Homo sapiens: one gene and its partners. The protein of the gene in region 3 interacts with the protein of the main gene of each other region in a pairwise test. Each region holds a gene or a part of one and is shown on either strand. Other genes may lie near its edges. The genes, in order: RAPSN, GUK1 and UBE2Z.

Region 1 (3,719 bases), on a different chromosome or scaffold from region 3:
CCCCCCAGAACTGCCTGGAGACCCCATGTTTTTGACAGATTTTATGACCAAACCTGGTGCACAGACTCCATAATAATTTGCGGCAGGGCGCCGTGGCTCATGCCTGTAATCCCAGCACTTGGGGAGGCCGAGGCAGGTGGATCACCTGAGGCCAGGAGTTCGAGACCAGCCTGGCCAACATGGCGAAACCCCATCTCTACTAAAAATACAAAAATTAGCCGGGGGTGGTGGTGAGTGCCTGTAATCCCTGCTACTCAGGAGACTGAGGCAGGAGAATCGCTTGAACCCAGGAGGCGGAGGTTGCAGTAAGCCGAAATCGCACCACTGCACTCCAGCCTGGGCTCTAATAGTGAAACTCCGTCTCAAAAAAAAATAATAATTAATCTGCTTTCCTGTTTTTATTAATTAAATATACACACAATAGCTCATCAGCATTTCTGATCAGCCTGATACCCAGGTAAACCAGAGTGGCTATAATCCAACCAAATTTTGGCATTTTGGTTGGACTGTGCACAGGATCTCGTAGAAATGCACATCTGGAAGGCTTTGAGAAGTGGTGAACCTGTTTTCAAGATTTTAAGGTTTTAATAAGATTATGACGATTTTTTTTTTTTTTTTTTTAGATGGAGTCTTGCTCTGTCACCCAGGCTGGAGTACAGTGGCACAATCTTGGTTCATGGCAACCTCCACCTCCCGGGTTCAAGTGATTCTCCTGCCTCAGCCTCCCAAGCAGCTGGGATTACAGGCGTGCACTACCACACCTGGCTAATTTTTGTATTTTTAGTAGAGACAGAGTTTCACCATGTTGGTCAGGCTGATCTCAGGTGATCTGCCCACCTCGGCCTCCCAAAATGCAGGTGTGAGCCACCGCACCCGGCCTTGGTTTTGGTTTTTAGGCCATGCTAATCTTCTCTGTATTGTTCCAATTTCAGAATATGGGCTGCCAAAGCAAGCACTAGATACCATTATTAAATTTGGAACATGGGCTTTGTAGTTAAAACAGACAAGTTAGTAGGTGTGGGACCTTGGACGCCTCTTTGAGCCTCACTTTTCCTCATCTGTAAAATGGGGCTTGCTGTACTCACCTCACAGGGAGAGAGTGAGGACTGGACCCAGTACCCATAAGGACCCTGTGTGTGCTCAGTGCTCAGGGAGTGGAGGCCACTGTTAGTTTTTGTTTGTTTTGAGATAAGGTCTCACTCTGTTACCCAGGCTGGAGTGCAGTGGAGCAATCACAGCTCACTGCAGCCTTGACCTCCTGGGCTCAAGCTATCCTCCCACCTCAGCCTCCCAAGTAGTTGGGACCTCAGGTGTGTGCCACAACAGCTGGCTAATTTTAAAACATTTTTTGTAGAGGCCGGGCCTGGTGGCTCATGCCTGTAATCCCAGCACTTTGGGAGGCCGAGGCAGGTGGATCACCTGAGGTCAGGAGTTTCAGACAAGCCTGGCCAACGCAGTGAATCCCCATCTCTATAAAAAATACAAAAATTAGCCCAGTGTGGTGGCGGGTGCCTATAATCCCAGCTACTCAGGAGGCTGAAGCAGGAGAATCACTTCAACCTGGGAGGCAGAGGTTGCAGTAAGCTGGGATCGCGCTATTGCACTCCAGCCTGGGAGACAAGAGCAAAACTCAATCTCAAAAATGTTTTTTTCTTTTCTTTTCTTTTCTTTTTTAGAGCATGGGTCTCATTATGTAGCCCAGGCTGCTCTCGAACTTCTGGGCTCAAGTGATCCTCCTACCTCGGCCTCCCAAAATTCTAGGATTATAGATGTGAGCCACCATGTCCAGCCCACTGTTAGGGGTTTTAATCAACATCAGGAAGCTTCTGAGGAATTCTGCTATCCTCCAAGCTATGAAACTTCTGCCCTGCCCTCAGAAGTGCTGTGTGTGTGGCAGAGAAAGAGCCAGAGTATGGGGTTGGCTGCAGGCAGCTCCCAGCATCAGGAAGGGCTCATGACGTGAGTAGGCTCAGGAAGGCCCTTCCCCAGACCCAAGTTCCCCACTTGGGCCCTTGACCCCAGATCCAGGACACAGAATCAAGTCTGACCTTGTTCCCCACCTCCTCGGCCAGATCCTGGGCTCTCTCGATGGCATCCAGAGCCTGGAAGGTGAGCATAGGCCAGGGCTGCGGGCAGAGCTGTCTGACAGGCCTTGCTCACAGGGAAGCACAGGGTAGGGGGGCAGGCCTAGGGAGGGTGACATGGCAGCTGCCTTGTGTGTGAAGGCAGCAGGAAGAGACTAGGGCACAGTCATAGGGGCTGTGTGGGCAAGTGACCTCCTGCCTCAGTTTACCCAGGGTTCCAGCCCTTTACTAGCTGTGGGTCCTAGGGCAAGTGATGGGCCTTCTCTGAGCCTGGAAAATGACCAGGAATGTCCTGGCCTCGTAGGATCAGGGTGAGGCTGACGTCAGACAAAGTGGCTGAAAGAGCCGGCTAACCTACTGGCCCCAAGTGGGGAGTGCTGGGAGGGCTGGAGGCTGTGGGAAAGGCCCGACCTCACCTTGTCCAGCGCCTTCCTGGCCACCCAGCACTTGGCCACACCCAGCAGCGCCTGCACCTGCCCCAGGCGGTTTCCGATCTCGGTCATGATGCTCATGGCGGAGTCGTACCTGGGGAAGGCTGTCTGCAGAGCCAGGTGGGGGATGGAATCAGGCTGTATCAGGCCTGTGCCCCTGCCCCCTGCCCCCAGCCCCTGCATCCCGGTGACCTCACCTCCAGGTCCCCACGGCTCCGGTGGATGTCAGCGAAGCAGAGCAGGCAGAGCGCCTGCAGTGGCCGGTCCCCGTGCTGCAGCGCGATCTTCATAGACTCCTGCGAGGGAGGCCAGTGGCTCAGGCCTACTCCTCTGCCACCACCACTGGAGTGCCCTCCCCTCAACAGACCCCTCTGAAGGGACAGCCCAGGGAAGCAACATCCTCAGAGCCTAGTGAATCTATCATGGTGCTGAGGGCTCACACACTGAACCACTGAAGTCACAGCACCCAGCAAGGTGGGTGGAAAGTGAGGCTCAAAGAGAAGTGACTTGATTGGGGTCACCCAGTAAGTGACAAAGCTGGGATGTGAACCCAGGTCAGTGGGACTCCAGAAACTGGCCCTCTTCCGTCTCTACCCTTCAAAGTACCCCATATAGGGTGTTGGGGCAGAAGGAAGCCCCCTCCCCTGCAGATGGATTGGAAGGGAGTGGGTTTGGGATGAGGCTGGGGGACAAATGTTTCCTTCAGGGGTTCAGCTGTAGAGAACTCATCTCATTTAAAAAATAAAAACTGGGCCAGGCACAAGTGGCTCATGCCTGGAATCCCAGCACTTTGGGAGGCCAAGACACGAGGATCGCTTCAGCACAGGAGGGTGGTTTAGTGAGACCCCGTCTCTACAAAAATAAAATTAGCTGTGCATGGTGGTGCACGCCTTTAGAGAGGCTGGGCCAGAGGCAAGCCCTAGGGGGCTTCCATGGGCTGATTTGGAAGAAGGAAGCCCTGCTGTCCCAGGCCCCAGCCCCTGGCCCACACCACCTCATCCCCGACCTGCCCCCTTCCCCGCTGCCCCACCTCACAACACTCCATGGCACTGCCCAGGCGGCCCAGCAGGCGATAGGCCACGGCCATGTGGTACTGGCTCATGGCCCGGTACTTCAGGCTCCAGCCTTTGCCATAGTTGTTGACAAGCTCTGCCGCCTTGCAGGGGAAGAACAGGGCTTTCTCGTAGTCCTGCAGGGGACATGG
Region 2 (3,819 bases), on a different chromosome or scaffold from region 3:
CAGCTGCTGCCAGGCAGGGGTCCAGGCTCCAGCCTCGCCAAGGGCGTTGTCTGCGCAGCTGTGCCCACTCTCGCCCAGCACAGGGCACGAGGCACACATGACACACCAATTGCCAAGAACTCTGGACGGGCCAACACTCCGCTCTTCCTGGGTCCCCTGAGTTCGGCTCTGCCCAAGCGTGAGGGCACAATGAGCAGACTACTGGGGGCCCTGGCCAGCCAGAGAGTGCAGAGGGCAGACAGTGAGTGGATGCGGGCCTTGCAGAAGCACAGCCACACCACCACCGCTGGAGACAGGGCGGAGGCACAGGCTGCCTGCCTGCCTGGGGAGAGACCAGTGGCAGGGCGGTCACCAAAGCCACCTTCCATGGAGCACACCCAAGGGAGAAAACTGTGGCCCAGGCCTCAAGGCTCCTGCAATCTTGCGGTGGAAACCACGGAGCCTTTGCCCTGACCAGAACACATGCGCCAAAGGTGTCTTCCTGTGGGCAGAGGGAAGCATTCCAGCAAACATTCTGTGCTCTCCACTCTCACCAACCCACAGTCGCAAACTCCAATCAGCTGCCTGGCAAGAAGCCACACAACCCACAACTGTAAGGACCTGCCAGGCACGTGGTCTCCACAGGAGCTCCGAGATGGAAGGTCTCCTGGGAGCCGCCGGCGCAGATCCATGTTCCGGAATGGTCTCTGCCAGAACGCTCCCTGGACTGGGCTCCCATGCTGCCCCAGCAGCCGCTTTCCTGGAAAGGCACTCCCTGCTGTGGCGGCATAATCTCCTCCTTCTGGCTTCCAGCCATCCTAAGGACTGAACAGAGTCACCACCTTGCCCCCGGCCCACTGTTCGAGGAGATGCTAACAGAGGGCTTGACCTTCTGAGAACCGAGAGAATTCAGCCCCCGCCTGGCCTCTCGTAAGACACAAACCACCAGACGTGGGCCTGGGCTCTGGGCTGGGCCAGGTGGATGAAGGGGAGGCTGGTGGTCCAGGCGGCTGCTCTTGGCTGCAGGGTTTCTGGGCACACATCCGGGTAGCACGCATCCTGGCCTTCAGCAACCTCGTTTTAAATGGGACCACACCAGGAGCAGCCAGGGCGCTTTCATTTTCACTTTCTTTCCCCGGGGGGGACAGGAACATTCCTTTACCTCCTGAGGAAATCGGGCTCTTCCAGAGCCACAGAGGAGTGAAGGCCCCAGCCCTTCACGATGCTGCGCGGCTATGTTTGGGTCTGTCCATCAGGGAGAAAGAAAAACCGGCCGAGTCTTGCACAGGGTCCTCGACAGCAACCCCAGGTAAAGAGCAGAGCAAGCCTGAGACAGGAAGGGGCCATGAGCCCAAAGACAGCAGAGCAGGACCCAGCCCGGGGCCTCAGGACCGACCTCTTTCATGCAAAGACGAAACCGAGGCCCACCACACGCAGGGTCAAAATCAACTTTGAGGCACCTGCTTCCCACACCAGTCCTTACTGGGGCATACTTCTAAGGCGACGCTCAAGAATGGCAGCAGGGCAGCTTCAAGAACCCCAACCCGGACTCTGGCTTTGGAGAATCCGAACCCCAAATGCCACACCCATGCGTCGGGAAGGCCTGCTGTTTCCCCAAGTCCCCGTCTCTGCGCCGTGCCGCGGAGTAGGCAGAATCCTGGGAGCCCCGGAATAGCCGGCTCCATCCGCCCAGGACCCCAAGGCTTGCAGGGTGAGGTGGGAACCGGAGCGCACACCGCGCCGGGCCAGCGGTAGGGACTCCCAGCTGCTCTCTTTGGCGGCGCGCCCAGGTGTCGGGAAGACACCGAGCGCTCCTATACGCCCGGGGAGCAGCTCGACACTGCGATAACTGCCGGCCTGCCCAGCTCCTGAGGAGCGCCCCGCCCTCCGGGACCCGGGCTCCGCTGCGTTGCCAGCCCGTCCGCCCTCCAGAGCTCCCCCGTTCTCAGGGCCCACAGTTGAATGCGGCACAGGGCGTCTCGGCTAGGAGGAGATCCGGAGGCGGCGTGGACTGGGCGACCGCAAAGCGCAGGGACCGCTGCCGCCTCGACCCGAGTCACCCTCGCGATCGCGCTTGTCGTACTCACCGTCCGGTGGGGCCCGGCCCAGGGCGGCCGCAGCCAGCCCGGCCAGCGGGCGCCGCAGCATCCGGGGCCACCTCTTCCGCCCACTGAACCTACGTGACAGCGCCGCACCGGCCCACCTCCGCCCGCGCGCGAGACTGACGTCATGAGGCGACTGCCCCGCCCATGTCTCACTCGTTCTTCCCCGCCCCTTAGGGAAGTACTTACCTCAGTGCCTCGCTAGCCCCGCCTCCACCTGCGCTGGCCTGTCGCGACCGCAGGGGCGTTCAGCACAGCGCCCTCCCAGCCCGTCTTCTCCCGCTGCGTCACAGCGCCACGCCGGCCCGCCTCCACACAGCGCGAACTAACATCACGACCCGCCGGCCCCGCCCACGGCGTACTTGTCCCGCTTGTCACTCAGAGAAGTACCTCAGTGCAGCGCGGGCCCGGCTTTCATCTGCTACGTCACAGCGCTGCCTCAGCCCGCCTCCTCCCGCTTATGTCACAGCGCCGTTTCCGTCCTCCATCTACACTGCAGGGACCTAACTAACGAACGACTCCGCTAGCCCGTTCCAAACCGGCCACTCTCCAAAAACCATTAATTGGGGAATGTGGCCGGGCGCGTGGTTCACGTCTGTGATCCCAGCTCTTTGGGAGTCCGAGCCGGGAGGACCGCTTGAGGCCAGGAATTGGAGACCAGCCTGGGGATCATAGGGAAACCCCTTCTGTACCAAAAAATTTAAAAACTTTTTTGTGCCTGTAGTCCTTGCTACTCGGGAGGCTGACGTGGGACGGTCGCTTGAGCCTGGGCAGTCGAGGCTGCAGTGAGCGGTGTTCGTGTCACTGCACTCCAGTCTGTGTGACAGAGCGAGACCCTATTTCTTTCTTTTTTTATTTTTTGAGACGGAGTTTCGCTCTTGTCACCCAGGCTGGAGTTCAGTGACGCCATCTCTGCTCACTGCAACCTGGGCCTCCTAGGTTCAAGCGATTCTCCTGCCTCAGCCTCCCGAGTAGCTGGGATTACAGGCGCCCGCCACCACGCCCAGCTAATTTTTGTATTTTTAGTAGAGACAGGGTTTCACCATGTTGGCCAGGCTGGTCTTGAACTCCTAACCTCAGGTAATCCACCAACCTTGGCCTCCCAAAGTGCTGGGATTACAGGCGTGAGCCACTGCACCTGGCCACGGGACTCTATTTCTAAAAATTATTTTAAATTTTTAAAAAAGATTTATTGAAGGCTGGGTGCAGTGGCTCACACCTGTAATGCCAGCACTTTGGGAGTCCGAGGCAGGCAGATCACCTGAGGCCAGGAGTTTGGGACTAGCCTGGCCAAAATGGTGAAACTCTGTCTCTACTAAAAATACAAAATCAGCTGGGTGTGGTCGTGGGCCCCTGTAATTCCAGCTACTGGGGTGGCTGAGGCAGGAGGATCACTTGAACCTGGGAGGTGGAGGTTGCAGTGAGCCGAGATCAAGCCACGGCACTCCAGCCTAGACGACAGAATGAGACTCCGTCTCAAAAAAAAAAAAAAAAAGTATTGAATGTGAACTGCAGGAGAGCAAGAAAAAAAGTAAAACTTTAAAAAATACAACTTCAAAAAAATGTGTTGGGGCTGGGCACCATGGCTCATGCCTGCAGTCCCAGCACTTTTGGAGGCCAAGGCGGATGGATCACTTGCCCCGGAGTTGGAGACCAGCCTGGGCAACATGGCAAAGCCTTGTCTCTATTTTTTTTAAATACTAATAATAAAACAGTTTGTTGGACAAGGGATTGTAAC
Region 3 (3,500 bases):
AGCCGAGATCACACCACTGCACTCCAGCCTGAGTGATGGAGTGAGACTCTGTCTCAAAAAAAATTTTTATTTTTCATTTTTGAAAGGCATTTTATTATCCTTTGTTCAGGTCTATAGAGGAAGAATCAAAGTTGGTGTCATATGTAATAGTTTAAAAATAAATTAAGTTGGCCAGGCATGGTTGCTCACGCCTGTAATCCCAGCACTTTCAGAGGCCAAGGCGAGTGGATCACCTGAGGTCCGAAATTCGAAACCAGCCTGGCCAAGATGGTGAAACCCCTTCTCTACTAAAAATACAAAAAATTAGCCAGGTGTGGTGGTGCGTGCCCGTAATCCCAGCTACTCGGGAGGCTGAGGCAGAGGAATCACTTGAACCTGGGAGGCAGAAGTTGCTGTGAGCCGAGATTGTGCCATTACACTCCAGCCTGGGTAACAATAGTGAAACTCTGTCTCAAAAAATAAATAAATTAATTAAGCTGTTCTAATCACCTATCCGGAATCATTTTCTTTTGGGACTATCACTGGAACTTTTTCCCGTGCTCATGAGTAATTCAGGAAGGCACATCGGAAGAGTGGGAGAAGTTGGGCTCCAATGTAAGTCTGGGGTCCTATCCTGATCTGTGTGTCTTTGTGAAAGTTAATTAACCTCTCTGAGGCAACATTATTTCACTTGAAAATGGGAATAACCATATTTAACCTCACATAGTATGAAGGTTAAACAAGAAATTATATATAAAAACTTGGTAGTGTCCAGCACAGAGCATGCTCTTGGAAAAATGTGAGTTTTCTCCACCTTCTCGTTGGCACTGTTAACTCAAAAAGTCTTGCCCGGGACTCCTAATGACTAGCTCCTTTGACTCTGCAGGTAACAGTCCTTCATAACCCCAGAAGAACAGCTGGCTGGGTAGTAGTCCCTACAGAGCAACTTTAGGGGATGCTGAGAATATAGGCACATAGAACCCACTGGATGCCACAACCCCCAAAGCAGGTCAGAATTAATTTCCAAAGGAGTCCATTGACTTCCATGCTATAAAGGAATCCAAGTCACATACTTATTGTAACTCTCACAAATAAAAAAATTCATTATTATTATTATTTTTTTAAGACGGTGTCTCGCTCTGTCGCTCAGGCTGGAATGCAATGGCCCAATCTTGGCTCACTGTAAGCTCCACCACCTGGGTTCACGCCATTCTCCTGTCTCAGCCTCCGAGTAGCTGGGACTACAGGCGCCTGCCACCACACCCAGCTAATTTTTTGTATTTTTAGTACAGACTGGGTTTCACTGTGTTAGCCAGGATGATCTCAAACTTCTGACCTTGTGATCTGCCCGCCTCGGCCTCCCAAAGTGCTGGGATTACAGGTGTGAGCCACCGCGCCTGGCCATTATTATTTTTTTGGGGGTGGGGGGACCGAGTTTCGCTCCTTACCCAGGCTGGAGTGTAATGGCGTGATCTCAGCTCACTGCAACCTCTGCCTCCAGGGTTCAAGTGATCACACCCAGCTAATTTCTTTTATTTTTAGTAGAGACAGGTTTTCACCATGTTGGCCAGGCTGGTCTCAAACTTCTGACCAGTTAATTTTTAGTAGAGATGGGGTTTTACCAGGTTGGCCAGGCTGGTCTCAAACTCCTGACCTCAGGTGATCCACCTGCCTGCCTCAGCCTCCCAAAGTGCTGGGATTACAGGTGTGAGCCACAGTGGTCGGCAAAAAATTTCATTACTAAAAAACACGTGTCAATTCCCTTTTTTTCCCTATACCAACAAATGTAGTACATGGGGCTGTGCTAGGTCCAAAACAAAACAAAACAAAACAAAACAAAAAAAACCTCCCAAGCAGATCTCTTAAAACACTATTCTGGCTGGGCGCGGTGGCTCACGCCTGTAATCCCAGCACTCTGGGAGGCCGAGGCAGGCGGATCACCAGGTCAGGAGCTGGAGACCAGCCTGGCCAATATGGTGAAACCCCATCTCTACTAAAAATATAAAAATTAGCCAGGCATGGTGGTACACGCCTGTAGTCCCAGCTACTTGGGAGGCTGAGACAGAATGGCTTGAACCCGGGAGGCGGAGGTTGCAGTAAGCTGAGATTGCACCACTGCACTACAGCCTAGGTGACAGAGGAAGACTCTGTCTCAAAAAAAAAAAAAAACAAAAAAACCAACCAACCAAACAAACAAAAACAATAGTCTACACCCCAGAGCCAGGCCCATCTGGCCTTACCTGTTCAAAGCCGGGCTCATTGTGATAGGGGTTCTCAGTCATCAGGGACTGGATAGAGATGAGCACTGAGGAGATGCTCTGGGCTGGGCTCCAGGCAGGTCCAGTCCATGTACTGTAAACACATCAGAAGGAATGGAGGGTGAGGCAGAGAAAGAATAGGGAACAAGTACCCTGGGGCCCGGCAACACCACCATAAGTGACTCACCATAAGTTTCTCTTTCACTATTAATACTCTGGAATTTCCCAGCCTCTGTCTCATGCTCATGTTCTGATTTCACCAGAAATCAGTCAATTGCCTAATCCTCAAATCAAGGGGGGGGGGCAAAAGAACAGGTAATAGCAAGCTATGTAACTTTGAAGGGATTTTCTTTGTACTAGAAACAGTTACGACAATCAAAACAAAAGAAATTAGGTAAGCAATTAGCTCCAAAGTTGTCTAAATGTTAATCTCCGTGGATCTCAAAGAGCTTGTTTATGGGTGGTGATGGAGTTAGTGAGGGGAGAGGGAAGTTGAGCATAAAGGGACACAGGTGACTGAAGCCATCTGGTTAGAGGCCATGTGGTGGGGCTATTGGGGATCCAGTTCTGTATCAAACCCCCAAGGAGTGTCAAATTCTCTTAAGACTACACAACTCTTCCAAAGAACAGGAAGAGAATAAGGGGTGCTTCCAGACAGTGGAAGGTCTGAAAATAATATATGGAAAACGTCAAATACCAAAATTGCTCCTCTCTTTCATAAACCCAACCAAGTATTAGGGGGAGGGGACAGCTTGGATGTTAATGACATTTATTTTTAGCTCAATTAATTGAAGAGATGGCACCGGAGCTGGAAGCCGAACACAACCTAAGCCAGGACTGGCTTGTTCAAGTTGACTGCCTGCTTCTGTTTCCCTGCTGTACTTGAGGAAAGCCCAAGTCAGTAATGCCTAATAGTAACTTCACTGGGGACTGCTCTTAAGTGCCTCTATCTTTTCAGCTTTGCTCCCCCAGGAACTCTAGACCTACTGCTCTCTGAAGCTTTACAACAGAGTCAACTCTCGTTAAATTTCTTTTGTCAGTAAGTCAGCCCAACATTGTTTTCTAGGTAAAGAGGAAAAAAAAAACATGGCTGATAAAGCTAATACAGTCAACTAGGAACACCTAAGAATTTTCTTTTCTTTCTTTTTTGAGACAAAGTCTCCCTCTGTCACCCAGGCTGGAGTGCAGTGGCGTGATCTTGGCTCACTGCAACCTCTGCCTCCCAGGTTCAAGCAATTCTTGTGCCTCAGCCTCCCGAGTAGC

The links.
Region 1: the proteins of UBE2Z (region 3) and RAPSN interact in a two-hybrid assay, tested with the Homo sapiens proteins (one large-scale study listed by BioGRID and IntAct).
Region 2: the proteins of UBE2Z (region 3) and GUK1 interact in a two-hybrid assay, tested with the Homo sapiens proteins (one large-scale study listed by IntAct).

The regions. Positions count from the first base shown.
Region 1 is NC_000011.10:47,439,111-47,442,829, forward strand, and holds part of RAPSN (43 kDa receptor-associated protein of the synapse), read right to left. Parts: intron 3,705-3,719; coding exon 3,546-3,704; intron 2,812-3,545; coding exon 2,713-2,811; intron 2,624-2,712; coding exon 2,501-2,623; intron 2,188-2,500; coding exon of another isoform or gene 2,103-2,187; coding exon 2,049-2,102; intron 957-2,048; exon of another isoform or gene 896-956; intron 1-895. UniProt on the Homo sapiens protein: Postsynaptic protein required for clustering of nicotinic acetylcholine receptors (nAChRs) at the neuromuscular junction. It may link the receptor to the underlying postsynaptic cytoskeleton, possibly by direct association with actin or spectrin.
Region 2 is NC_000001.11:228,138,611-228,142,429, reverse strand, and holds the start of GUK1 (guanylate kinase), read right to left. Parts: upstream 2,152-3,819; 5' UTR 2,128-2,151; coding exon 2,067-2,127; exon of another isoform or gene 797-2,066; coding exon of another isoform or gene 601-796; intron 1-600. UniProt on the Homo sapiens protein: Catalyzes the phosphorylation of GMP to GDP. Essential enzyme for recycling GMP and indirectly, cyclic GMP (cGMP). Involved in the cGMP metabolism in photoreceptors. It may also have a role in the survival and growth progression of some tumors.
Region 3 is NC_000017.11:48,914,907-48,918,406, reverse strand, and holds part of UBE2Z (ubiquitin-conjugating enzyme E2 Z), read right to left. Parts: intron 2,332-3,500; coding exon 2,220-2,331; intron 1-2,219. UniProt on the Homo sapiens protein: Catalyzes the covalent attachment of ubiquitin to other proteins. Specific substrate for UBA6, not charged with ubiquitin by UBE1. May be involved in apoptosis regulation.